Homo sapiens: one gene and its partners. The protein of the gene in region 1 interacts with the protein of each later gene in a biochemical or structural test. Each region holds a gene or a part of one and is shown on either strand. Other genes may lie near its edges.

Region 1 (7,027 bases):
ACCCACTACAATCAGCCACATTTCAGAAAAGGTAAACATGCCATTTTTATATAGACTTAGTGCCCACCACCCCCTACCCCCTGCCAAATCCTGGTTATAGACTAACAGTTGCTGTTAGATGCTTATGAAAAATAACCCTGTTTCCCAGGATGAGCCTAACTTGGGCTCACACTAACTTGGGCTGGGTTCATATTGATACATTTCTTCCTTTTTCTCCCCTAATTTTTGTCTGGAGGAAAAAATGTATCTTCGTTCTCTTAATTTTGGGCTAACTTCTACTGCAGGATTTTCTGGCCTGAAGAAAGTTCTTCCATATGAGTGTAGTTGTGAACAAAGCGTAGCTCCAGGAGTTTTGTTCTGCATAGTGGGGAGCGGTGGAAACCACGAGGCTATCGCAGGTGGTGGACTTGGCAGAGAGAGGAGCATATGGGTTTGACAGCGGAAATAGATGTCACCATCTGGTACCCGGGCCCTTCAGATGATTCCATTACCTCCCTGTCCTACCCCATATCTAGGTTGAGTGCGGATGGCATTTGAGATATATTTGCTTAATTTTTTTTTTCTTTTTTAATGACATAGTCCTGGTTTTAAGCAAATGGAGATAAAAGGTGATGTGCTCTGTTAGGGATGTCTGCCAAGGCAAAGCTCACAGAAGACGGGAGAAGTTTCTGAGGATAGACTACCTCTGACATTATTGCTTGGATTGGAGCTGGGCTGTTTCCTGTTAGAAAAGGCAGAATACAAGCCCCAGGGAAGGGGCCAATCGGTGTGCCAGCTACTGGAGCGCAAGGAGGATTCATTCCTGGATGAGAGGTGACTCAGCAGAGAGATTTCCTAGAGACACCTCCTGCCTCCTCCTTGTATGACGTTCAAATCAGACTTCTAGACATACAGCTTGTTAGGTGTTTAGTGATTAACTTTTCTGTGGGACTTGAATGTAAATGCCAGACTATGGCAGTTTGGGATATGGTCAGTTAAGCCAGATATGCTTTGAATAGCTTGTTAGATTTAAACATCTAGAATTTTGATGGCTGTGAACTTTGAGGATCTTACTTGGGATTATGGAATTATAGAGACACAGGGCAAATGAGATAAATGGGGTTCTCTTTTGTAGTTTTGTTGTTGTTTAGTTCATGTGGTCAGGTTATTCAGTGGCATGTCCCATGCAGATTTCTTACATCTGCCATCAGCTATGACATCATGCCTGGATTCCAGTAACAGGATGGCATTTCATCAAATTCTGAAAGTCATCATTATTTGGACTAGAACAACCTATTCCTTAAAATGCCTAGTAAGACGAAATCTGGAAACAACCCCCCAGGTTGGAACTCCTTAACAAAATCAGGGCACCTTTGCTGCAGTTGGCTGCAGTGTCACTTACCTGGAGAAGGCGCCTTGTTCACCCCAGGATGACCTGTCTGTGGGTTAAAAAACGGTGCTGTCCCCTTTGAGTCAGAATGGTGCTGGCCATTCCCCTGTCGTCTTTTCCTGCCAAGTTGGATTCAGTGCTGCATGCTGGATTTCTGGCATGCTGGAGTTAGTGATGGGGCAAAGATATGTTTGGAATTGGATGAAACTCTGGACACCTCTTCAGCTCCACTGTTTAGACAGCAGCTGGCTGGAGTGGCCTCCCAGTCAGTATCATCCATTCTCGAGACTAGAGGCAATCCCACTTCTGCTGATGGTCACCCAGAATTCCATCTCCCCACCTCCTCTCCAGATCCATGAGAAAGAAGAGGAAGAGTTCAATGAGAAGAGTGAAAATGATTCCGGTATCAACGAGGAGCCTCTGCTCACAGCAGATCAGGTATAAGTATCTCTCCAGGTTATCGGGACCTTTTGTTCTTTTGATGGAGAAAAAGTCCAAGAGAACACACTTGCCACATCCATTTAAGGCAGAAGAAAGATATGTGGTCATGTGGTGCCTGTGCTCATGACTCAGAGTATTTTTTGTTTCTTTTTTTTCTTTATATATATATACTTTTGAGACAGAGTCTTGCTCTGTTGCCCAGGCTGGAGTGCAGTGGCGTGATCTTGGCTCATTGCAACCTCTGCCTCCCGGATTCAAGTGACTTTCCTGCCTCAGCCTCCCGAGTAGCTGGGACTACAGGCATGCACCACCATGCCTGGCTAATTCTTATAAAAAATTTTTTGGTAGAGATGTGATTTCACCATGTTGGCCAGGCTGGTCTCAAACTCCTAACCTCAAGTGATCTGCCCACCTCAACCTCCCAAAGTGCTGGGATTATAGGCATGAGCCACTGTGCCTGACCTTTTTTTTTTTTCATTTTGAGACAGGGTCTCACTTTGTCACCCAGGCCAGAGTGCAGTGGCAAAATCAGGGTTCACTATAGCCTCAACCTCCTTGGCTCAAGCGATCCTCCCGCCTCAGGCCCCTAAGTAGCTGGGACTACAGGCATGCATCACTATGCCCAGCTAATTTTCTGTACTTTTAGTGGAGATGAGGTTTCACCATGCTGCCCAGGCTGGTCTCAAACTCCTGGACTCAAGCAGTCCACCCGCCTTGGCCTCCCAAAGTGCTGGGATTACAGGCATGAGCCACGGTGACTGTCCAACTCAGAGTATTTTTGATAAGGGATTTCATCTCTCTTTCTGCCTCAGGTTGCCCACCTGCAGTGAACATGAATGTCATTCTTGACACTTGGGATAGTTGGGGTCAGTCTCTGATAGGAGCCAGAGACAGGCATAGTGTTTAGTAGCTACAATCCTGCTAAGCCTTCTTATTGAAATTCGTTGTACTCGGAGTCAAGACACTCAAACAAGGGTCCCAAATACCTGTTTTCCCAAAAAGAGAAGTGACAGATGAGGCTTTTGTGTGATGGATATTTTCTTACATTTCATAGAACACTCAAAATTTTGGGCCTTCCGAAAGGAGTCTTAGAGCCACTTCGACTTTGTGAAAAAAGATAGAGTGCTTCGCATTCAATTGAGATCATCATAGCTTTAATAATTTATTACTTAGAGAGGATAATGTTCAGTTTCTGGATTCCTTATTTAATGTTTTAGTCAACAAATATTTATGGGTGCTTATTTTGAGCTAAACACTACATAAGTTTCCACAAAGTCTTTCTGCAAAGCTCCACTGGCAGCCTTCGGTGCCAGAAAGTGCTTTTTTAGCAGCAATGGTGCTTTTTCATATCTGTGATAGAAAGGTGGGAATTGAAACACGTGAGGATTAGGAGACTGAAGAGAACCAGATTTTTAAAAATAGGGGCTAATAGCTATTCTTGTGACTTGTAGGAGGATCTACAATTCAATGATATGAACTCAATTATAACTCCTCTTAGAGAAAAGGACATTCAGCCATAAGACCCTGACAGGGACTTGTGTCATTTGGTTGCATTCTGTAAAATGGCTTTCAGTAGTCAAAGACTGGGTATTTCCTAAGTTTGTGAGTAGAGGTGAAAAGGTTTGGGAATAAGAATGGAAATTATTCTAAAGGAGGAGACCCTGAAACCCCTTACCTTTGGTCCAGCCCACTGTGAAGAAACCACCTCAAAGAGTACAATGCTGGCCTCGGGGACTTTAGTCCATCCATGGAGAACAGACAAAGGTGAAGGTTGGGACAAAACTCATCTAAAGACCTGCTTTCAGCAGCAGTCTTCTTTATTTGTAAATAATTAATGTACAAAGTAAGTCACTCTTTTTTTTGTTGTTGTTGTTGAAACAGGATCTGGCTCTATTGCCCAGGCTGGAGTCCAGTGGCCCAGTCTCGGTTCACTGCAACCTCTACCTCTTGGGCTCAAGCCATCCTCCCACCTCAACCTCCCAAGTAACATGGACTACAGACACACGTCACCACAACTGGCTAATTTTTCTGCTTTTTGCAGAGATGGGGTTTCGCCATGTTGCTCAGGCTGGTCTTGAACTCCTGAGCTCAAGTGATCCACCTGCCTCGGCTTCCCAAAGTGCTGGGATTACAGGCATGAGACACCATGCCCAGCTAGTAATTCACTTTTGTTCCTTTTGGCAGATATCTAATTTTCCCTCCACTTCTGGGAGCTGGCTCCTGTCAATAGTCTAGATTAGAGCTGGGGTTCTTATCTATTTGCTGCTCTCTAGACTCCACCTATCCTTCTATTATTTCATTATCTCTATTTTCATTTGTTGCTGGGCAGCTTCAGTTCCTGTCTAGGTGAATTCTGGAGAAATAGTTGTTTTCCTCCCCATTTTGTGTTGTTCTAGGAGCACGCTATTTTTTACAGTCACGTGTATTATGTCAATTAATGGACTGGGTTTTGTGTTAAAGTTGGGTGAATGAAATATTTTCCCACTTAGAAATAGCTCAGCACATTGAAGTAAATGTTCCCTTCCAGGCAGCTCTGCCTTGCTTCCTGAAAGAGCAGCTTATTTCCAATAAGTCATTTATCTAAAAGGAGCTCTTGGAAGAGGTTTTACATTAAAGAGTGCCTTACATTAAAGAAAGAGTGTATGCAAGCCTTTGGTTGGAACTATTTTTATTATTCAGTATTTATGTAAAAACAATATTGCTTTAGAAATTTTCAGATAGCTAATTAGGAACATCCTTAACTGATCAAAATTCAAGCCAGAATGCCCCTCTAGCAGAGAACAGAGTTAGCACTCTCTCGTGTACCTTCTTCAGGTAATTGAGGAGATTGAGGAAATGATGCAGAACTCCCCAGACCCTGAGGAAGAAGAGGAGGTTCTGGAAGAAGAGGATGGAGGAGAAACTTCCTCCCAGGCAGACTCGGTCCTCCTGCAGGAGATGCAGGCATTGACACAGACCTTCAACAACAACTGGTCCTATGAAGGTGAGGGCCCTGGGCGCTGGGCTGGCCGAGGAGGAAGCACCTGCTCGGGGCCAGGCTCTGGGCTGTGTGCTTTGTACATGGCTAATAGAACCCTGACTGCCTCAGAGCAGAGCCTTGCAGATCTAGGTGGTCAGCAATACCTTTCTTACTCGGCATCAGGAGAGAAGTTTGCATTTTTGAGAAAAGAACAAGGTAGTCGAGCAAAATTTAAATGTTAAAACTAACCAAAGAACAAGACTAAGGCAGAATAAGCAGAAGAAATCTGAACTACTATATAAAAGCAATGAATGATGCTACCATAAAATCAATGAATAAAAAAGGTAATAGTAACAGCTCATATTTCTGAAGTGCTTTCTATGTGCCAGACCTTATTCTAAGACTTTCTTTCTTTTTTTTTTGAGACAGAGTCTCTCTCTGTCTGTCACCCAGGCTGGAGTGTAGCGGCATGGTCTTAGCTCACTGCAACCTCCACCTCCCAGGTTGAAGTGATTCTCAAGCCTCAGCCTCCTGAGTAGTTGGGACTACAGGCACGTGCCACCACGCCCTGCTAATTTGTGTATTTTTGTAGAGACGAGGTTTCGCCATGTTGGCAAGGCTGGTCTCAAACTCCTGGCCTCAAGTGATCTGCCTGCCTCAGCCTCCCAAAGTGCTGGGATTACAAGTGTGAGCCACTGCGCCTGGCCTTATTCTAAGACTTCCTATGCCTAATCTCATTTCATCTTCACACCAACCCCATTTGGATCAAGCTAACCGAGTCTTTCAGAGGTTACATGACTTGTCCAAGGCCACTGTTAGGGAAATATGATTAGAAATGAGATTTCCTTCCTGTTCAGAAAACCTCTCCACAAAGACAGGTGAGAAAGAAAACTATTTTGTTACTATTTTTATTTATTTATTTATTTTTTAGAGATAGAATCTCGCTCTGTCGCCCAGGCTAGAGTGCAGTGGCATGATCTTGGCTCACTGCAGCCTCTGCCTCCCAGCTTCACGCGATTCTCCTGCCTCAGCCCCCTGAGTAGCCGGGATTACAGGCATGCATCACCATGCCCAGCTACTTTTTGTGTTTTTAGTAGAGATGGGGTTTCTCCACGTTGGCCAGGCTGTTCTCAAACTCCTGACCTCAGGTTATCCGCCTGCCTCGGTCTCCCAAAGTGCTGGGATTACAGGTGTGAGCCACCATGCCCGGCCTAGAAAACTATTTTATTATTGAATAAGCACTAAACCAGGATGGGAGCCACATCACAGACAACTCTCTGAAGAGACTGCAAAGACAGAAAGCAGTCTCACTCTTGTGTAGCTAAGTGGATGAATGGAACCCATTACATTGAGTAGGTTTTGCAATTTGGAGTCGGAAGGGAGTTAGGCCCCTCTGCTCAGAACAATGAGAGATGATTATGTTTCTTTTTCTTTTCTTTCTTTCCTTCTTTTTTTTGAGACAGAGTCTTGCTCTGTTGCCCAGGCTGGAGTGCAGTGGCATGATCTCTGCTCACTGCAACCTCCGCCTCCCAGGTTCAAGCAGTTCTCCTGCCTCATCCTCCCGAGTAGCTGGGATTACAGGCATGCACCACTACGCCTGGCTAATTTTTATATTCTTAGTAGAGATGAGGTTTCACATGTTGGCCAAGGTGGTCTCGAACTCTTGACCTCGTGATCCGACTGCCTCGGCCTCCCAAAGTGCTGGGATTACAGGCATGACCCACTGCGCCCGGCCCGATGATTATATTTCAAAGCAGTAACCTCCAGGCCCTTGAAGAAAGCCTCCTGAATTATAAGAATGACAAGAGGCTTATTTTAGCCATGACAATAATTTAATGTAAATGTAACATATGTTTATTTTAAAGATTTAATCTAAATCTTTGAGAGATTGAAAAGGATAGGTAGAAGAAATTCTGAAAGAAAAGGGAGGTGGGGGAGAGGAAAAGTCTCTTCCCTTATTTTCAACGGGGAGAATCAAGCCTCTCATTTAAAATTTGTATTTGTGCTTAGTCCATGCAGAAGCCATAAGGGGTGAAGCTAACATTTGAAGCCAGGTAGGTTAACTCCAGAGGCCATCCTCTTAACTCTCTGACACAGGTTTATAGTAATTATGACTGTGCACAAGAAACGGCTGGATGAAGCATGAAATGAAAAAGTGTAACACAGCAAAGGCAGAACAATTCACCAGCCGTAGGGTATCAAATGCCCACGCTGCAGAAGGGGCCCCATCCTAGGAGTTGATCCACCCATGGGGAGAT
Region 2 (7,027 bases), on another chromosome or scaffold:
TTTTTTTTTGTTTTTTTTGAGACAGAGTCTTATTGCCCAGGCTGGAGTGCAGTGTCGTGATCTCGGCTCATTGCAACCTCCACCCCCTGGGCTCAAGTGATTCTCCTGCCTCAGCCTCCCAAATAGCTGGGATTATAGGCGTGCGCCACCACACCTGACTACTTTTTGTATTTTTAGTAGAGACAGGGTTTCACCATGTTGGCCAGGCTGGTCTTGAACTCCTGATCTCAGATGATCCACACACCTCAGCCTCCCAAAGTGCTGGGATTACAAATGTGAGCCACTGCGCCTGGCCCTAGAATAGTTCTTATCAAGGATGTGGTATTAAACGTTTTTTGTGTGTGTGAGATGGAGTCTTGCTCTGTTGTCCAGGCTAGAGTGCAGTGGCACAGTCTCAGCTCACTGCAACCTCTGCCTCCTGGGTTCAAGTGATTCTCCTGCCTCAGCCTCCTGAGTAGCTTGGCCTACAGGTGCTACCATGCCTGGCCAATTTTTGTATTTTTAGTAGAGATGGGGTCTCACCATGTTGGCCAGGCTGGCCTCGAACTCCTGACCTCAAATGATTCACCCCTCCTTGGCCTCCCAAAGTGCTGGGATTACAGGTGTGAGCCACTGCACCTGGCAAAACTTGTAGACACAAAAAGCAATATGTAAAATTTTGAACAAGAATTTATTTCTAGATTATTTGCCCAAACATTAATTTTATTACTTTAAATGTTAAATTCATAGACTAAAATTGAGGGTTTTAAATGTTGATGCTTAATTTTAGCAATAAAAATGTTTATAAAATGTATTTGTATTCCATACAAAATGTGTTTGCATATTCATACAAAAAAGTCTAAGATTGCATTGAAATATATATATGTATATAGTAAGAGAGAAAATTAAGTTTTAAAAAAAAGTTTGGGGAAGTCAACAAATTGGACAAATGAGCACAAGCAGTATAACATGAAGCCAGGAATGAAGAATACAAACTTCATGTTCAAAAGGTTTCCACATTTTCTAAAAACAGGAAACAAATTTGGTGCTGGTCTTTCTCACAAAGCAGAAAACCTAATTAATTACATGAGTCACAGTATTCATGAGACAAAACATTTTAGTTGCTCAGAGGACAGCTATTTTTGGTATTGAAACCAAAGGAACAATTTTCCCATGATCTTTAAAAAGAGGGCACTATCATACAGTGTTCCTCAAACTTGAATAACATGTGGATCCCTTTAAGGAGCAAAAAGTATTTTTTTCAGGCATGAGAATCCAAGGGTCTATAAACCCCAGTAAAAAAAAAAAAACTCAAGTCTTAGTGGTAGAAAATTTCTGTTAGTTGTGAATTATTACTGTAAAACATGTTGTATTTTTCTAAATATTAAAAAATTTTATCAAAATGAAAATATAAAAGGTAAACATTTTCTGGTACTTGTGGATTTCTTATTTTATTGAGACCTTGGACTTCATTTTACAAAACAGTGCTATAATGGAATGAAAAGTATCCTCAGTAATTTTTACAATATTTAGATTTCATGAGGCTGTTTCTCATATGTCATGCTGTAAGTTAATGGCACGAAGCCAGAGGATGATTCCATTTCAGTAATTCTGTAGAGTGTATCAAACCAATTCTATTCATATTCAGACTATTCCACCTCCAGGCGGTTCTCCTTAAGTATTGTTTCAATAGAGCTTTTCATAAGTAATCAGCAACAATGTGCTTGGGGTTCAGTTTTGCTCAACAAGTATCTGGAGAGCTTTTAGTTTGCCTTGCCCCTTAAGTGGAGAGCTGTAACAATCAACTTATTCACAAGGTAGAATTGACACCCTCTTTTGACAACTGAGTGGCTTCAAAAGGATATAAGCCTACACAGAAGGCCATTTCCCCTGCAAAGGACCAAGAATCAGGCTAGGTTAATACACCACTCAGGAAGCAATATCAGATTTTCTCTAGTACACAAATGGAAAGGGAAAGAGAACCCCAGAGTTCTGTATCATAAAGCCTGACAGTAATTCCTTCACCCTAGAAAAAATGTAAAGCAATTGAAGATGCCTACCCTGGCAATCTTTTCTAAAACTCTTAGTACATACCATTACAGCAGGTGTAGCTTAAAAAAAAATTGAGTACAGCCCATAAAATATTGTAACTTGCTACTATAGCTACTAAAGAAACTGGTTATAAAATGGATATTGAATTATGTGGATGACTTGCTGTTTTGTATTGTTAATCATGAGAGTTAAATGAAATGACTAGATATAGATTTCATATTCATTGATTCAGAATAACCGTTTTGCACTCCTTCTTATTGGAAGTCAGTAGAGCCCATATATAGCTGTTCTTTTTGATTTGGGGAGTTTTTTGTTGGGATTTTTTTTTTTCTATGGAGACAGGGCCTTGCTCTGTCACCCAGGTTGGAGTGCAGTGGCATGATCTCAACTCACTGCAACCTCCGCCTCCTGGGCTCAAGCAGTCCTCCCACTTCAGCCTCCTGAGTAACTGGTACTACTGGCGTGAGCTACCATGCCTGACTCATTTTTGTATTTTTTTGGCAGAGATGGCATTTCGCCATGTTGATCTCAAACTCCTGGCCTGAAGCTGTCCTCCCACCTCAGCTTCCCAAAGTGTTAGGATTACAGGTGTGACCCACCGCACCCAGCCTACCTGTCTTAGAGATAGTTGTCCAGACAGCTATCTTTTAGGCCACATCTAGGAGATGGTAAAGCCATGTCATCTACATATGGTACTTACACACTTTTATTTTCTGTGTTGGGGAAAAGGGAGAGTAAAGAAGGGAAGGGGTAAGCAAAATTTTATCTCGCTCACCCGAAAGTGACATCAAGTCATTAAGATACAAGTTAAAAAGAAGATTGTCAAAAACACATTTCTGTTTTATTTCACTGGAAATTATATAAGTCCTGAAAAGACAGCCTCAGCTATTTAACTCTCCTGATACTGTTATGGTGCAGGTTTGGTAAGCGTCAATATCTTCAGCCGTTGATAAAGTTAATGCTTTTTTTTCCATAGCTAGATACTATCCAGAGTCAGAAGTCAAATAGAGCTAATAAAATGTGTAAGCGATTTGATAGTATTCCTAATAAATTCTTCCACAAGGAGAGGAGTATAACAGCTGTGGCCAGTGGCAACCTGGCAGAGGCTACCATGTTCTCACATTGAGTATTAGCATTAGCGGCCCAAGTTTATAGATTCTTCTTTTTTTTTTTTTTTTTTTTTTTTTTTTTTTGAGATGGAGTCTTGCTCTGTCGCCCAGGCTGGAGTACAGTGACATGATCTCGGCTCACTGCAACCTCTGCCTCCCAGGTTCAAGCAATTCTCCTGTCTCACCCTCCCAAGTAGCTGGCATTACAGGCATGTGCCACCACACCCAGCTAATTTTTGTATTTTTAGTAGAGACAGGGTTTCACCATGTTGGCCAGGCTGGTCTCAAACTCCTGACCTCAGGTGATCTGTCTGCCTCGGTCTCCCAAAGTGCTGGGATTACAGGCATGAGCCACTATGCCTGGCCATTATAGACTCTTAAGAAAGAGACACATACCTTCTCTTCATATTCATTTTAGGTGGAATATTGGGCTGCGTTTATGTAATGAAATTGTATACATCGGCTAAAATGAATGAATTAAATTCCGACTGTCAATATGGATAAGCCCCACAAACATGATGAGTTGAATAAGTAGAATATTACACCATTTATGTAGTGTTTCTAAACAATTTTATTTAGATGTGCATGTACGTAATAAAAATAAAAGCAAAAACCATGAGCGGGAAGAATACACATCAATTTCAGAGTACTGAAAATGCCCCTGGGGAAGAAAGGAAGGCAGTAAGATTGAGAAAGGGTACTCTGCATCTGTAATATGGTTTTACTTAAATAATCCAAACCACTATGGCCAAAAGTTAGCTTTTGTTAATTCTACATATTATGGATATGTGTGTTCATTACTTTCCTGATTATTTGAAAAGTAAGTAAATTATAGTCCAGTGATAAGTGTTACCTTGGAAGCAATAAAATGTATGTAAGTTATAAAGTAATGATCCAACTACATTGATGGTGACAGGATAGGTCTTCCTAGGGGAGAGGACATCAAAGTTGGATTCTGAAAGACAAATGGGAATTTAATGCAAATAAGTACTCATACATGGAAGTATGCAAAATGTAGTAGGGAAACTATAAGCAATTCAGTGTTCCTAAAGCATAAATTATAGGGGCAGTTAAGGAAGGTGGGGAATGAAATTTGGTAAGATGAGAAATATTTAAAAGGCCAGATCATGAAGGGCTTTGTAATCCACGTTAAGGAGCGTGGATTCCATTTTGAGGCAGCAGGGAGCTAACAAATGTTTTAAGCAGTGCAGTGATTTGACATGACCCTTGGATTTTAATGAAAGATCACTTTTGCTAGAATGTGGAAGATAGTGCTTGCATATAAGATTAAGTTAACCAGTCTGTTTAATTCACTTGATTATAATCTTTAGAATTAAAAAAATTGAAAATAACAAAAATGTCTATAAATAGTAATGGTTAGTTATGTCATATCCATTAAACAGAATACTCTGCAGACATTGAAGTCAACATAGAATATATCCATGATTTATTCTTTAACATTTTATTGTCAAATTTTTATCATATTGAAAATCTGAAAGAACTTTACAGTGATCACCCATGCACCCACCACCTAGATTCTAACATTAGCATTTTCTAATCTTACATTATCACTTATGTATCCACCTTTCCATTCACTAGGGTGTTTTCAGTGGAAAACCTATGTTTCAAAACTGCATTTTAGTGTAATTTTTAAAAGATATTTGTGTATGCATAGGAAAGCATTGTGGGAGGATTTATATAAAGTTAACATTGGTTGTCTTTCACTTACAGATGATTTTTGCTTCCCATTTTATTCTTCATTGTATTGTCTGAATATTTTACAAGGAATGTGTGATAAAATAATTTTAAAAGTATGTTTAAAACTACATTAAAGCTCTTCTCCTTTAGCATGAACAAGAATGGGTTTTTTTTAAAGTAGATACAGCTTGATTTGAAATGAAGTCAATTTTTTTCTTTTTTCTACAGATAATGATGAATAATCCTCAAAATGTTTTTTAATCCTCAACTATATGAAAGCATTTGAATTTGGCTTATCAGAATAACAAGCTTCAGTGGGAAATACAGCAATTATTTATTTAAAAAATCAGATTTAAGATGGACTTTCTTATTGCATGAAAAAGATGGAGAAACATGCCATTTTTCAGTGAAGATTCTAATATTTTATCTATTTTGTTCATTGAATTCCATGGTTAAATCTCATAAAATATATACTTTATTAAATCATCCAACCAAAGCATAGGAAACATTGACCCAGAACCTGACTTAATGGTTTTGAAGATTTACTATGCAATAGGGTAACTTTGAGTTTCAGCAAATGTCTTTAGGTTGAAGGAATTACCTATGTCATGAAGGACCTGTCTGTGGTTTTTCAATGGAGTCTTTAAGCATGATCTTTTTTCTGTCTAGTACTTGTTTTCATTCTGGCCAGCAGTTCTACATTAAATCACCTTGTCAAGGGCTCTGTTTACATCTATACATTTTGAAGATGAAATTTTTAGCCTTAAAGTTTATATTCTCAAGTCCTTTTACAATCAGTGTGTCTCCTGAACTAGCACACAGGCTGTAGAAACAGTCTTAGAAATCATTGAAAGATTTGATTATGAAAGAATAGCAAAATTATATTTCTTGACATATAAAAAGTTGGTTTAATGCCTTTATTTCTCTTTAAGGACCAGAACCAGGAATACTATATCGAAAAATTAGTCTGTGGATTTAACACTGACTTAGCATATAGCTTAAAGTTGCTCTTTTGGTTTTTAACTTCCTCCATACATAAGCTTCAAGGACAATAAGATGTTAAAAAGGAGGAAATAATTATTTTTATTTTGACACTGTGACAGTTTTGGTAACTAGGATCCTAGGGAGGGAAATGTTTGCCTGTTGAACTTCTTTCTGTTATGAGAGGATTTAGTTAGGTCATTAAGATGTTGATCACACAGCTTCAATCACAATATGCCAAGTATAACCTGGTTTCGTTAGAGGTGTCTACAGTCCAGATGTTCTTCGTAATAAAAGCAAAGTTTTTGAACCTCTGAGTCCAAAGCAGGCTGGTTGGCATAATATGTAATTTGAAAAATAAAATCTTATCTTGCAGCACTATCAGTATGTTGAATTTATTATGTATATTATTTCTAATATCCGAAACTAAATACTTGATTTTTTAATATGTGTGTTTATTTTATGATATTGCTATTAAATTTTTATTATCTACCTGAAGTATATCAATTGTCTTTTATTTATTATTTTACTTTTCTCAATAGAAGGCTTTTACATCAAGCTGATAATACTTTTGTTGGTTTTGTACCTGATGATTTCTTTCTTCATAATGGAAGAAAATGAATTCAATATTTTAATTCTTTACAATCCTGAAAGATGGGCATGATTTTGGGGAGGTTGTGTATTAATTCTTAAACTATTACAACTATTAGAAAAGGGTATAATATGGTAGAAAAAAATTGTTTTAGCCATATTTCAAAAGATGTTATATATGTGCAGGAATAAGGATGATCAATAAGATTTGTGCCATCTCCAGTCGATTAGCAGTGTGTGACTCTGGAGTGTTGTTATGGAAAGATTATGCCAGTGAGGAAAAGGGCTATTTTTCAGTAAGGTCTATTATAAGTGTTGGAATTGACATGTGGAAGCATCTGTAGATTAATAAATGTTAGCATTAAATGGGCTATCAGGATAACTTTGTCTTTTCTGCATTTAACATGCAAGGATATTGAACATGAAATTAAGTCACTTGTGTAAAGGGTCAGGGTCAGAGCAGTTTCTAGGTCTTACACTGTTATTAGTTGCACATTCTTATCTCCCCCAGAGAACCAAAAAGAATAAATTTGATAGGAATTTGGGAGGCCGAGGCAGGTGAATCATGAGGTCAGGAGTTCAAGACCAGCCTGGCCAAGATGGTGAAACCCCATCTC
Region 3 (7,027 bases), on another chromosome or scaffold:
GCCCAGGATGGTCTCAATCTCCTGACCTCGTGATCCGCCCGCCTCGGCCTTCCAAAGTGCTGGGATTACAGGTGTGAGCCACCGCGCCCGGCCGAGGTAGTTTTTTAGTAGTCCTTTACTCCTATAAATTACTTTTTTTTTTTTTTTTTGATGATCTGTTAATAGTCCTTGGTTTAGAGGCTTTTGCATACTTGAGTTTTCACCAAAAAATTCTTTTCAAACCAGTGAGGCATTACAGACCAGTGAAGATATTGTATAATCTAAAATGTGTCTCTTCACTTTCATCAGTCCTTGAGGAAGGTGTAACTTTTTTTTGTGACCATATGAGGAACACATGTAACCTTTGTGGAAGAAATAGAATAAACTTTTTTCAAGGTCAACAGAATATTAAAATAAATGAAAAAAATTAAATTCACTAATACAGGATCAATGTAAAATTATCTTCAACAAATTAGTTGTCCAGAACACAAAGGGCTGGTTCAATAACTGTTAATTTTACTCTCAGCAGAACCTAGAACAAATAATATTCGTTTGTTTTTAATTTAAAAAATCTTTTTTTTTTTTGTAGAGACGGGGGTCTTGCCATGTTTCCCAGGATGGTCTCAAACTCCTGACCTCAAGCGATCCTCCCACTTCAGCCTCCCAAAGTGGGAGCCAGACAAATAGTTATTTTGGGAAAAATATCTTTGAAGTTTTTCTTTTTAATTCAATTAAAAATTTTTGAGGTTAGGTAAGCAGTTCTCATGAGACATTTCCAAAGCTTTTGCCTTTGTATTGTTACTCTGTAGTTGAAAACTTGTGTCAGATATGGTAGGTGACATTGATTTGATTACAAAATAATACACTTATATTATTGAAACTTCAAGCTTATATTTCAGGGTTAAAACAGGCAAGGCGGTGATCTTTTAATCTAATTTAGGAAATTAGGTAAGGCAGAGTTTCATATTTTAACAAAATGAAAATGTATGATTATACAGTCCGTGAAAAAGGCTGGTATAACCAGACTGGTAGCTTTAGGAACTTTTAAATTATGTGCACTTTTTGGTCCCTGTCATAGATCACCTAGAATTCTTGTGCTTTTTAAATTTTTTTGTGAGACAGAGTTTCGCTCTTGTTGCCCAGGCTGGAGTGCAATGGCGCGATCTTGGCTCATTGCAACCTCTGCCTCCCGGGTTCAAGCGATTTTCCTGCGTCAGCCTCCCAAGTAGCTGGAATTACAGGCATGCGCCACCATACCCGGCTAATTTTGTATTTTTAGTAGCGACGGGGTTTCTCCATGTTGGTCAGGCTGGTCTTGAACTCCTGACCTCAGGTGATCTGCCTGCCTCGGCCTCCCAAAGTGCTGGGATTACAGGCATGAGCCACTGTGCCCGGTAGTCTTGTGCTTTTAAGTAGAGTACTTTAACTTCACTGTTGTTTGTTATTTATATAGTGTATTACAGTGAGTTCATTGCCCTATAGTTCACTGCCTATAGGTTCATTGCAGAACCATGACTAAGTTCATTCTCTTCAGGAACCTACATTCCAAGGCATCATTATTTACATTATATTAATTCTATAATCTACTCATGTGTTGTTTTTCGTATCTCAAGGTGGTGCTGTGAGTAGGTGGTGTGTTTATTTTTGAGATAGGGTCTGGCTCTATCGCCCAGTCTGGAATGCAATGGCATGATCTTGGCTCACTGCAACCTCTGCCTCCTGGGCTCAAGTGATCCTCCCACCTCAGCCTCCCAAGCTGAGACTACAGGCTCATGCCACCACACCTGGCCAATTTTTGTATTTTTTTCTAGAGACAGGGTTTCACCATGTTGCCCAGGCTGGTCTCAAACTCCTGGGCTCAAGTGATCCACCCGCCTTGGCCTCCCAAAGTGCTGAGATTACAGGCATGAGCCACCATGCCCAGCCAAGTAGGTGTTTTAAACTGTTTTTCGACAATGGTAATGAGATTGCATAAGTGATTTTTCTCTCCTAACTCTTCTTTATGACCTAGTTCATCTGCAAGATGGTTGGCTGGGATTCCGGGTGTGGTCAAGATTTTAGAAAGTGTTGGCCGGGCGCAGTGGCCCACGCCTGTAATCCCAGCGCTTTGGGAGGCCGAGGTGGGTGGATCACCTGAGTTCGGGAGTTCAAGACCAGCCTGTCCAACATGGAGAAACCCCATCTCTACTAAAAATACAAAATTAGCTGGGCGTGGTGGCACATGCCTGTGATCCGAGGTACTCAGGAGGCTGAGGCAGGAGAATTGCTTGAACCCGGGAGGCGGAGGTTGCAGTGGGCCGAGATCACACCACTACACTCCAGCCTGGGCAACAAGAGTGAAACTCCATCTCAAAAAAAAAAAAAAAAGATTTAGAAAGTGTTTTAAGTATTCCTTTCCAAATGCAGAATATGTGACCTTGGACTTTTTAGCAAGGTTCTGTAAGTGGAAGAAAATTGACATTAAACAACAGCCTTAGGAGCCTCTTCTGTGCCAGGCACTTGATAGCTGTTTCTCATTAGAGAAAACATTATAATCAAGCAGGTACTGTTTTCCTAATTTTACAAGTCAGGAAACTGGGATTCAGGTTAAGTAACTTGTCCATAGCGACCTGGCTTAGAAGTGATGGGGTTGGAATTCAAACCCAGTGCTCTGGACTCGAAAGTCCTCTTTATTCTACTGCTCAACAACTGACATAAATTCACCACAGCTTTTGTATCAACATCCTACGTAACACTGACCCACTCTGTTTTGATATACATAGTTTTTCTGTAGAAGTGCTGTTTTGCATGAATGCATTCATGATGTGATCAGGGCTTTTGGTACTGGTCCTCCCACTCCCAATTTTTTTTTTAAATGCCTGTCGCGTTAAAAATTTGGGAGTTGGGGCCGGGCGCGGTGGCTCACGCCTGTAATCCCAGCACTTCGGGAGGTCGAGGCAGGCGGATCACGTGAAACCCCGTCTCTACTAAAAATACAAAAATTTGCTGGGTGTGATGGTACGCACCTGTAATCCCAGCTACTCAGGAGGCTGAAGTAGGAGAATTGCTTAAACTCAGGAGACAGAGGTTGCAGTGAGCCGAGATTGCGCCACTGTACTCTAGCCTGGGAGGCAGAGCAAGACTCCATCAAAAAAACAAACAAACAAAAAAACACACACACAGAAAAACAAACAAAAAAGCAATTATAATTAAATTTGAGTAGAGGAGATAGATAGGAATCCAACAGTTATAGAATAGTGCCAGGTGCTATGGTGGAGGTATGCACAACTCACTTAAGAAACATGAGAAGGGACCCCGGGAGAGGCAGGGTCTTAGTGAAGACTTTCAAGAAAAAGTGATACTTAACGCTGAGTAGCAGTTGCCCTGGGAACTGGCTCGAAATTGGGGAGCTCAAGAAACAGCAGCAAGTAGTGTGACTGGAGAGGTGGGTTTTACCTCGGGTGTGTGGCAGGTACCTGATCTTGGAGGGCTGTCAGAAACGTTTAGGAGTTTGAACTTTCTTTTTGTTGTTGTTTTTTGGGACAGAATCTCTCTCTGTTGCCCAGGCTGGAGTGAAGTGGCATGATCTCGGCTCACTGCAGCCTCTGGTTCCCGGGTTCAAGTGATTCTCCTGCCTCAGCCTCCCAAGTAGCTGGGATTACAGGTGCATGCCACCATGCCCTGCTGATTTTTTTTTTTTTTTGTATTTTTAGTAAAGATGGGGTTTTACCATGTTGACTAGGCTGGTTTCAAACTCCTGACCTCAAGTGGCCCACCTGCCTCTGCCTGCCAAAGTGCTGGGATTACAGGCGTGAGCCACTGCACGTGGCTGAGTTTGAACTTTCTCTGTAAAATGCCTTTTAGGGATTTTAAGAGATTAGAAAGATGGGTGGCAAGGGAGTAAAGGGTAGTTTGGGAGAAGGTGGCTGCAGACTGCAAGACATATTAGGAGGCTGTTGTTGCTGTATAGGAGCGAGGCAGTGGAGTCCAAGGGAACTAAGGCATTGCCTGTGGGAATGGAGGGGAGCAGACAGACACCAAAAATACCAAGGACTGTGATTAACCCAGTTTTGATGATCAGTTAGCTGTGAAGGAGGGGAGGGGAGGAGAGATGGAGAAATGACACCTTGGTTTCTAGCTATGGAGAAGGATAGATAAGGGTTGAATAAGGAATTCCAGAGAAGCAGCAGATTTTGGAGAAAGCACATGTTTCTTTTTTTTTTTTTCGTCTTTTGAGACAGGGTCTCCCTCTGTCGCCCAGGCTGGAGTGCAGTGGCGCAACCTCAGCTCACTGCAACCTCTGCCCCCTGGGTTCAAGTGATTCTCCTGCCTCAGCCTTCCAAGTAGCTGCCAGCCATGCCCAGCTAATTTTTTAATTTTTAGTAGAGACGGTGTTTCACCATATTGGCCAGGCTGGTCTTGAACTCCAGACCTTGGTGATCCGCCTGCCATGGCCTCCCAAAGTGCTGGGATTACAGGTGTCAGCTACCACGCCAGGCCTCCGGCTAATTTTTGTATATTTTGTAGAGACAGGGTCTTGCCATGTTGCCCAGGCTGGTCTCAAACTCCTGGGCTCAAGTGATCTGCCCACCTCAGCCTCCCAGAGTGCTGAGATTGCAAGTTTAATTTTGGACCACCAAAAAGATGAGTCCACATGTAGACCCCCACTCTGGCCTTGGTGCTCTAACATCTCCATTTCTTTCTTCTTTTTTCTTTTTTTTTTTTTGAGATGGAGTTTCGCTCTTGTTGCCCAGGCTGGAGTGCAATGGCGCGATCTCAGCTCGCTGCAACCTCTGCCTCCCAGGTTCAAGCGATTCTCCTGCCTCAGCCTCCCGAGTAGCTGGGATTACAAGCATGTACCACCATGCCTGGCTAATTTTTTTGTATTTTTATTAGAGACGGGATTTCTCCATGTTGGCTTGGCGGGTCTCAAACTCTTGACCTTAGGTGATCTGCCTGCCTCAGCCTCCCAAAGTGCTGGGATTACCGGCGTGAGCCACCGCACCCAGCCTAACATCCCCACCTCTTTGACCATTTCTTCCCTTGTAACAGGCCTGAGGACCTGAGGTCCCTTTTTTCCTCAGAAGATAGTTGCTACCATTCACTTTATAACCAGGACTCTTTCTTAAGCCTGGGAGGACAGTGGGATGTATCCTGCCAGGCCCTTTCCTCTCCTTTTGTTCATTGTAGACAAGAGACAGAGAATGATAATAAGGATATAAACTTGCTTCACAAGGTTGGCATCCTTATCCCCTGTTTTACAGATAAGAAAATGGAGGCTAATAGAAATTAATTTATTGAAAGGCACACAACTAGTAAGTGGTAGAACCTGGACTCTAATCCAGGTTCTGACTCCAGAGTTTTCTATCGCTTTACTACCTCTAAAACAAGACTTAACCTCAGCCAACTGTAACCTTTTTGGCATTCTTTTTTTTTTTTTTTTTTGATGGAGTTTCGCTCTCGTCACTCAGGCTTGAGTGCAATGGCCTGATCTCGGCTCACTGCAACCTCTGCCTCCTGGGTTCAAGCAATTCTCCTGCCTAAGCCTCCCAAGTAGCTTTGATTACAGGCTCCCGCCAGCATGCCCAGCTAATTTTTGTATTTTTAGTAGAGATGGGGTTTCTCCAAGTTGGCCAGGCTGGTCTCGAACTTCTGACCTCAGGCGATCCCCCCGCCTCGGCCTTCCAAAGTGCTGGGATTACAAGCGTGAACGACTGTGCCCGGCCACATTTATAGCATTCTTACGGTCCCTTCTGAGATAGGAAGTGGAAGCCCCAGTGGACTTTTTGTTTGTTTGTTTGTTTTTTAAGACAGAGCCTCGCTGTGTCCCCATGCTGGAGTGCAGTGGCACGATCTCTGCTCACTGCAACCTCCGCCTCCCGAGTTCAAGTGATTCTCCTGCCTCAGCCTCCCGAGTAGCTGGGGTTACAGGCACATGCCACTACTGCCCGGCTAATTTTTGTATTTTTAGTAGAGGGGTTTCACCATGTTGGCCAGGCTGGTCTCAAACTCCTGACCTCAAATGATCCACCCACCTCAGCCTCCCAAAGTTGTGGGATTACAGGCATGATGCTGGAGTGCAGTGGTGCTATCTTGGCTCACTACAACCTCTGACTCCTGAATTCAAGCGATTCTCCTGGGTCAGCCCCTCGAGTATCTGGGATTACAGGCGCCCGCCGCCAGGCCCAGCCCTCCAGTGGACTTTCATTCCCGTTTGTTATTGCTGAGAGTGGAGCTCATCAAGTAGCCCCAAGCTCTTGTAGGGAAAGAAGGCAGAAAGACTTCTCTGTGCAAAGTGCATTTTCTCACACGGCACTTGTAGTATCTAGTGGAAATGTCTTCCTGTAAACGGTTCATTCAACAGCGCTTACAGTTGACTAGCTGCATCCCTGATAACAGACAAACGTTGCTGTATGGAGCTTCGTCCTAGTGGGAGGAGAGGGATAAAAAACAAGCATGGCCGGGCGTGGTGGCTCACGCCTGTAATCCCAGCACTTTGGGATGCTGAGGCGGGTGGATCACGAGGTCAGGAGTTCGAGACCAGCCTGACCAACATGGTGAAACCCTGTCTCTACTAAAAATACAAAAATTAGCCGGGCGTGGTGGTGCACGCCTGTAATCCTAGCAACTCAGGAGGCTGAGGCAGGAGAATAGCTTGAACCCGGGAGGCAGGGGTTACAGTGAGCTGAGATTGCACCACTGCACTCTAGCCTGGGCGACAGAGTGAGACTGTGTCTCAAAAGCAAAGAAACAAACAAACAAACATGTTCACATAAGGTGTCATTTGATGAGAAGTGCTGTGAAGAGAAATACTTAGGGATGGAGTATTGTTACAGAGTATTTCTGTGGCCTACAGGTACAGAGAACAATCAGATATGTGTAACGTGTGCACTTTGAGGAGGTGGTCTTGAAAAGAATTTCAGGGATGGCTGGGAGCTTGCTCGGGGAAGAATGTTCCCAGGTAAAGGGAACAGCAGGTTCAGAAGGCCTTGAGGTAAACTCATTCTTGAGCTGTTCCAGGAATAGCAAGGATGCCAAGCATGGTTAGAGCCTTCTGTGCAAGGGGCAC
Region 4 (7,165 bases), on another chromosome or scaffold:
AAGGCATAAATGACTATTCCTCTACCACCCACCTCACCCCTTCCCCACATGTAAATTGTATATTCAGTGAAACGCTGAGCAAAGACTCAAAAGAATGCAACCATTTGTCTCTTATCTATCTATGACCTGGAAGCCCCAGCATCAAGTTGTCCTGCCTTTCCAGATGGAACCAATGTACATCTTGTACATATTGACTGATGTCTCATGTCTCCCTAAAATGTATAAAAGCAAGCTGTATCCCAACCACCTTGGGCACATGTAGTCAGGACCTCCTGAGGCTGTGTCACGTGCACGTCCTTAGCCTTGGCAATATAAACCTTCTAAATTGAGACCTGTCTCAGATACTTTTGGTTCATGCCAACATATCTATGAGTACCTTACAGAACCCAAGGGCAAGCTCAACTACCAGGCCCTGGGGAACACAGGAGGCAGGACCCACCATTAGTGCCTCTGCTCTAACCACTCCCACCAACCACCTGTCAGTTCCAACCAGCAGATTTGCTGGAGAGAAACTGACCAGTACAGTTTGAGCCACAGGCTTAACCCAGCAAGTATTCACTATTAGACAATCAGGGGCCACTCAAGGATTAGAAACCCAGTCACTGGACACCTAAGTGTCCACCTGTTCCCAAAGAAGGGCAGTCATTGGAAATCACTCCCAGAGCCATATGCCACATTCCCCAAAAAGGGAAAAGAGGAGAGAAAGAGGAGAGCAAAGAGCTTTTGTAGGACTGTGACTGCTTGGCCAAGGTATCCAACTCTGATTCTTTAAGGCGTGTTGGGGGATAACTTCTCAACTGGGGCCTGACTGGATGGAAGGAATGAAGGTGGGGAGGGCAGGGGCAGAAAAGACAGGAAAGAAAAAAAGGGTCAGTGAGCCTGGCCCTTAGACCTTGGAAAACTTTGTAGTCTTTGACCACAATTCCATCTCTGGCACTCAGAAAAAATAATAATCCTAAATAATAAAAAGTTTTATGTTCAAAAATAATTATACAGAACCACACAAAAAAGATATCCAACTTCTGGGGGGGCAAATGTAACTACGGTAGGAATCATGATAGCTGACATTTATTAACCACTTATGATGTTCTAGGCACTGTGTTAAGAATTTGTCACCACCTATTTCATCAGACTCAAGAAGTGAAATAATTGCTAACATGTTATAACAAGTCATGGGTGGAGTCCAGATCTGAACCCAGTTCTGACAGCAAAGCCAACTGTCTTTAGCACCACAGTGTACTGTACTACAGAAACTGCACTGTACTACATAAAAAATGGCAACTGTGAAAACTACATAGCAATATGGGGAAAGATTATGATAAAGTATGCCTTGAATAAAGACTACAAAATTATACATAAAGAATGGCTGGGAGCGGTGGCTCACACCCGTAATCCCAGCACTTTGGGAGGCCGAGGCGGGCAGATCACCTGAGGTTGGGAGTCCGAGACCAGCCGGACCAACATGGAGAAACCCCATCTCTACTAAAAATACAAGATTAGCCGGGAGCAGTGGTACATGCCTGTAATCCCAGCTACTCGGGAGGCTGAAGCAGGAGAATCGCTTGAATCCGGGAGGCAGAGGTTGCGGTGAGCCGAGATCGCGCCATTGCACTCCAGCCTGGGCAACCAGAGTGAAACTCTGTCTCAAAAGAAAAAAGAAAAAAGAAAAAAAAAGAACAGTTACAAGCATGAACTCCCCCACCACCACCACCACACACACACACACACACAGAGGCTGGCTGGGCGTATCAGGCTGGGTGTAATCAGGAAAGAGTAACCTTACAGTAATTTGAACAGGAAAATAATAATATAAACATGTATTAATTATAATAGGGGACTGTAGTCCCCTACAGTTATAAGGAACTGCCTAGTAAAAAGAAAAAAGAATGCTAAATAATACAAGAATAGCAGATATAAGTAGCCACTACCTCAAGGACTGAGACAGAGCACCTAAGAAAAGGTCCTAGATCCCCTTAGACCAGGGCAAGTTGGTGCAGAAGAAGTTGTGTACCGCAATAGCCTAGCATTGAATACAAATGCTGTTTAGAAAAATATGGGGAACATGGAGGTTTCATCCATACCAACTGACTTTGGACCCAACATCACACAGTGCCTGGTACAGATACCCAAGTGTTTTCTACATATATGTCTGAACACCCCAGATAGGAGATATTCTTTTAGGGCAAGGGTTATGTTTCATCCTCCTCCTATAGCCAACCCTATACTTGGTATACATAATGAGTTCAACAACAATTTACTTTTGAACAGAATATATGAACTCTGAGGGAAGACTCCTATTAATCTGTGCCTTTTTTCCATTAATTTTTATTCTATTTTTTCTACTGTAAAAACAAAAATAATGCTTATTAAAGAAAATGCAAAGGTTAAACAAAAGGAGAAAAATATCAGCCATATTCCTGCTACCCAGAAATAATCACTGTTAGTACTTTGGTGCATTTTTTATACCAATAGTTTTCTTTTTTCTTTAAACATAGATGTACAGACATCGTATCCTCCATGCAATTTCATATCCTGAATTTTTTTACTTATCATAAAAAAAGCATTTCTCCAACTCCTCATCAGCTCTTTATTTAAGAATTAATGGTGAATTATTCTCTATAGAAAATGTTTACATTGATGTTGAAACTACCTCAAATGCTAACTGCACAATCTCTTTCTGAAGATTTTAGGTAGTTTACTTAACCACTTCCCTTTTGGAACTCTGAGGTTCTATTTTATTTTTCCTATTATAAATAATTCCATAATGAACATCACTGTACTTCATATTATCTCTGATAGGCCTATTTCCGACGATGGCTGTCCCACGTGTGAAATTACCAGTTCAGATGCTACAAATGCATTTATGGCCACTGAGCAAAACTTAAGATCACCAGCCACCTGCTTCTAAACATGGAAACTGGTAGCTTTCCCTTTTACAACAGGACACAAACCCGAAGCTCCTTCTATGCCCTCTAGTACTAACACTTGCTTACCTATCACCTAACACAGCCTCCCCTCTTCCCTGCCCATAAAACGCTGCCCAGCCCTACATAATTACACGACCCTGGGCTGGTCCCATCGCCTTTCGGACCTCATCAGTCCCCATGCTGCGCAGTTGGAGAGTGGCATGACTGAAGTGCTGGACCAGAGCATATCCTACGGCCCCTCCTGGAGGGGAGGTGGTGCCCTGGGCGCCGAAACCAAGCGCAGGGTCTTGGCAGGGCGCAGTCGCTTCGCCGGTAGACCCGGGGACTCAAAGCAATAGAACTACAGCTTGGAGCTCCAGGGAGAGCCCAAGACACCGCAGCCCTTCCCCATCTAGATTCCGAGATTGGCCCCTGGGCCCCACTCCCAGCCTTCACTTCATCTCCCCTGAAGCCCTTTCTCTTGCCCGCGGCTCACCTAGTCCACCCTCCAGACCTCATTCGGACTTCCCATTCTTCCCAGTGGAGGGGTCGCCCAAACCCCTCGGGGTCTCCTTTCCCCCTCTCCTTTTCTTTCCGCGCCGTCCAAGCCAGTCCCACTCTCCACACTCTGGAAGGTATCGGCTACCCCCAATATTGCGACTGCCTTGCAAGATCCCCCCATCACCTCCTCCGCATGTCTTTCCACGTATCTGTATGGGGTTGTCCCTCTGTCTTTCCCGCCATGACTGGCTTTCCGTCCTATTTCACCCACCCTTCCTCCCACGGATCCGCGAGTCCTCTGGCCCTGGCCCTTTCATTTTATTAGTCCGCCCCTCTCCTGATAGCACCTCTATCCTCTTTAGGTCCCCTCATATGCCCCTCCTCCAAGTCTGTCCCTCAGCGTCCCCGTCCGCGTCTCTACTGTCTGTCCCCGAATGTGTTCCTCTGTTCCTGGAGTCTGGCCCTCGGTCCAGCCAGGCCCCTGCTCACCATCCCTCCCCCGGGCCGGAGAGTCTGCAGCCCGGTTCCCGGTTCTCGCTGGGGTAACTCTTTCCTCTTCCACTTTCTCTACTTTGAACCCATCCCAGCAGAGTCCAGGAAGTAGCCTGGCGCCGGAGACTGGCGGCGGCGACGCCCAATGGGACGCGCCAGCGGCGGCGGCAGCCCCGCCCAGAGAGCAAATGAGACCAATGGTCGCGTGAAGGCGGGACTTCCGCTGTCCCGCGAAGGGCGGGGGGAGCGAACTGTTGTGGTGCGGAGCGTTCGGCGGGCGGCGGCCGGGCGGCCCAGGGGCTGCCGCGGGACTCGGGGCGCAGCCGAGTGGCTGCAGGGGTGGAGTGGGCCGGACGAGCCGCGGGGCCCGGGTGCCGCGGGTTCGAGGCCGGGCCCCGCGCGAGGAGGCCGCGCCACCCCGGGGGAGCTGCCCGGCAGCGAGTTTGCCCCGCTGCCGAAAGAAGGCGGGAGCCGGCAGGGGCCTTCGAAACCCCCTGGCAACCCAGGCCCGGAGTCCTTGGGGAGCGGCTGTTTCCTGGGACGCCCTCCCGGACACCCCCGCTGCAGGGTTACGGTTCTGGGCCCCCGGCAGAAGGCTCCTCCGGGTGACCCCCGGCGGGGCCCTGCGAGCCGCGGGAGCCGACCCCGGGGCCTCGAGCCGGGAGGAAGGGGGCTTCCGGAGGCGGAGGGCCGGGGGCCGAGGGAGCCGGGCCTCTCGGACGCGGGGCAGGGCAGCGCCCGGGCTGGAGACGGACTCTGGGACCCTCGGCTGCGGGGGTCTCAGCGACCTGCCCCGCGGCAAGCGCGGCCGCGGAGTGGCCTACCGGGGACCCTCCCCCAGAGGGACCGGCCCGGGGCGGGGAGATGAACGGCTTCAGCACGGAGGAGGACAGCCGCGAAGGGCCCCCCGCCGCCCCAGCTGCCGCCGCCCCGGGCTACGGCCAGAGCTGCTGCCTCATCGAGGACGGCGAGCGCTGCGTCCGGCCCGCGGGCAACGCCTCCTTCAGCAAGAGGGTCCAGAAGAGCATCTCGCAGAAGAAACTCAAGCTGGACATCGACAAGAGCGTGAGTCCGCCCCCGCTCGCGTCTGGGCCCCGGCGCCCCCAGCTCTCCGTCCGCTGCCCTGGGCTCCAGTCGGGACTCCCCGGGCACTCCCCGCCGTGGGCCTCGCCGCCCCGGCTCTGCAGAACTGAGTTGGACTCCGCATTTCAAAGGCCGCTCCAGCGCTGACATGCTCTGACTGTGATTCTACCCAGATCCGGGAGGATGGGGGCGGGGGCTTCAGGACTCCTGCTGCCTGGAAAGATTGGACAGCAGTTTCCAACTTGTTTTATTGGTTTAGACTTTAGAGCAGGGAGAGGTGGGTTAGTTTTGTTGGCCCTTGAAGGAGCAAGAATCGGAGCGGGGAGTGATGAAGATACCCGGCTCTTTTCCAACTTCTCTCTCCTTCTAGGAACCCTGTTATTCCTTCAGACAGAGAAAGGTGGCAGTTACTTCCCTGGCTCCCGCATCCTCGGTATCAGCAGAGGGTCACCGAGCTAGCTGCTTCGCAGGCAGCTGTGGGAATGGGTTTTTCTAGGATGTGGCAGAAATAAGGCCAAGGCCAGGTCTTGAGAAATGGCTCTTGCAGTCGATGTGACTGGAGGGGGGAAGAAAAGAAATCAATTTTCTTAGTGGTAGTTTCTTTTGAAATAAGGGGGTGGATATTTAAATTTAAATCGGATTGCCCTGCTCTTTGTGGCTTATTATAGGAAACTCCTCCCGTGTGACTTCACCACTTCTAGTTAACAATTCTGAAGCTGTGCCTATTGTCAACCAATTAAGAACTTTTTAGTTTGACATCTGTTGCTACAAGCCTTAAGTGATTGCTTCATGATTAGGAATTGGAAATGAGTTAAGGGGATATTTAATATTCAGGTAGACTAGCTAAGAGCTTAGGTGGTTAACATCCATTCTCTTCTAGAATCAGAATTTCTCCACAGTTGGAGGAAATCAGAGACTGCTTGTTAAACTGAAAGGGAGTGCACGTTTCCCCTCTGATTTTAGGGTTGAAACAGGCCCAGAGATAGGAAGTGAGGGTGTCAGGTACACACAGCACCTAAGAGGCTGGTTAATTTCTTAAAGATATTATCTAATTTACTTCCAAGCCCTATACATAAGTCTTCATTAAGTCTCTAATAAATAAAAAATCTCCCCTGTCCTTTTTCTTTTCTTTTTTTTTTCTTTTTCTTTTTTTTTTTTTTTTTTTTTTTTGAGACGGAGTCTCACTCTGTCACCCAGGCTGGAGTGCAGTGGCAAGATCTCGACTCACTGCAACCTCCGCCTCCCGGGTTGAAGCGATTCTCCTGCCTCAGCCTCCTGAATAGCTGGGATTACAGGCGTTTGCCGCCATGCCTGGCTGATTTTTGTATTTTTAATGGAGATAGGGTTTCGCCATGTTGGACAGGCTGGTCTTGAACTCCTGACCTCAAATGATCCACCCGCCTAGGCCTCCCAAAGTTCTGGGATTACAGGCGTGAGCCACTGCGCCCAGCCCCTGTCCTTTCTTCAGACTCTTCCCTCCTACCCCCATTTTTAAGTTAATCATTATAATACAGTTGCAGCTCTTGCATGGACAGGTGCTATTTTTAAGTGGTTGGGAGAGAGTTAATGGCTTTCTTACTACAAATCTCTATCAATGAATGCATGAATGGAAATATCTGAGAACAAACAAGGGTCTAGACACCAAGGTGATCCCTCCTTAGGTCACACGTTGAGGTGAAATGCTTATGGCAATGAATTCATCCACTTAGAAACACTGCCTACCTTCCGTGTAGGTTGTTAGAAGCTGCTTTACTTGAGCAGCTTATAATAATAATTTCCAGTCCTTAAAAGAATCTTCCAGTCCTTTTAGATCACTGGATGCCTTCCCATCTGAATGATTTTGCTGCTGCAACTGGGACTCCTTTTATTTACCCATTGACTGTACTGGAAAACCTGTGTTGAGCTATGCTGATCATTTCACACACACTGTCTAGAAGAAGGGCAGCCTGAGCCTAGCATTAGTGTTCCCAAAATGTAATACTTCTGAGGTAGTAAGGTTTCCAGGTGGAATCACTCAAAATTTGTTTTAAGGTGGTGTTGTGGAGTCATTATTTCTGAAAGGGATTCTATTTCTTTCTCACAGGCTTGGGCAGGAATTCAATTCCAGGTAACTGGTATGTTACAAGAATTTTTAGCTATTGCAGAAAGTGAAGGAAAAAAAAAAACTAGAGCCTTTGCTACCA

What was found.
Region 2: the proteins of FEZ1 (region 1) and NEK1 form a complex in vitro, tested with the Homo sapiens proteins (one study listed by BioGRID).
Region 3: of the proteins of FEZ1 (region 1) and UBE4B, one has a biochemical effect on the other in vitro, tested with the Homo sapiens proteins (one study listed by BioGRID).
Region 4: the proteins of FEZ1 (region 1) and SAP30L form a complex in vitro, tested with the Homo sapiens proteins (one study listed by BioGRID).

What each region holds. Positions count from the first base shown.
Region 1 is NC_000011.10:125,458,264-125,465,290, reverse strand, and holds part of FEZ1 (fasciculation and elongation protein zeta-1), read left to right. Parts: intron 1-1,720; coding exon 1,721-1,807; intron 1,808-4,624; coding exon 4,625-4,793; intron 4,794-7,027. UniProt on the Homo sapiens protein: May be involved in axonal outgrowth as component of the network of molecules that regulate cellular morphology and axon guidance machinery.
Region 2 is NC_000004.12:169,392,563-169,399,589, reverse strand, and holds the end of NEK1 (serine/threonine-protein kinase Nek1), read left to right. Parts: intron 1-5,066; coding exon 5,067-5,080; 3' UTR 5,081-6,781; downstream 6,782-7,027. UniProt on the Homo sapiens protein: Phosphorylates serines and threonines, but also appears to possess tyrosine kinase activity. Involved in DNA damage checkpoint control and for proper DNA damage repair.
Region 3 is NC_000001.11:10,035,951-10,042,977, forward strand, and holds part of UBE4B (ubiquitin conjugation factor E4 B), read left to right. Parts: intron 1-7,027. UniProt on the Homo sapiens protein: Ubiquitin-protein ligase that probably functions as an E3 ligase in conjunction with specific E1 and E2 ligases. May also function as an E4 ligase mediating the assembly of polyubiquitin chains on substrates ubiquitinated by another E3 ubiquitin ligase.
Region 4 is NC_000005.10:154,441,842-154,449,006, forward strand, and holds the start of SAP30L (histone deacetylase complex subunit SAP30L), read left to right. Parts: upstream 1-4,155; 5' UTR 4,156-4,763; coding exon 4,764-4,964; intron 4,965-7,165.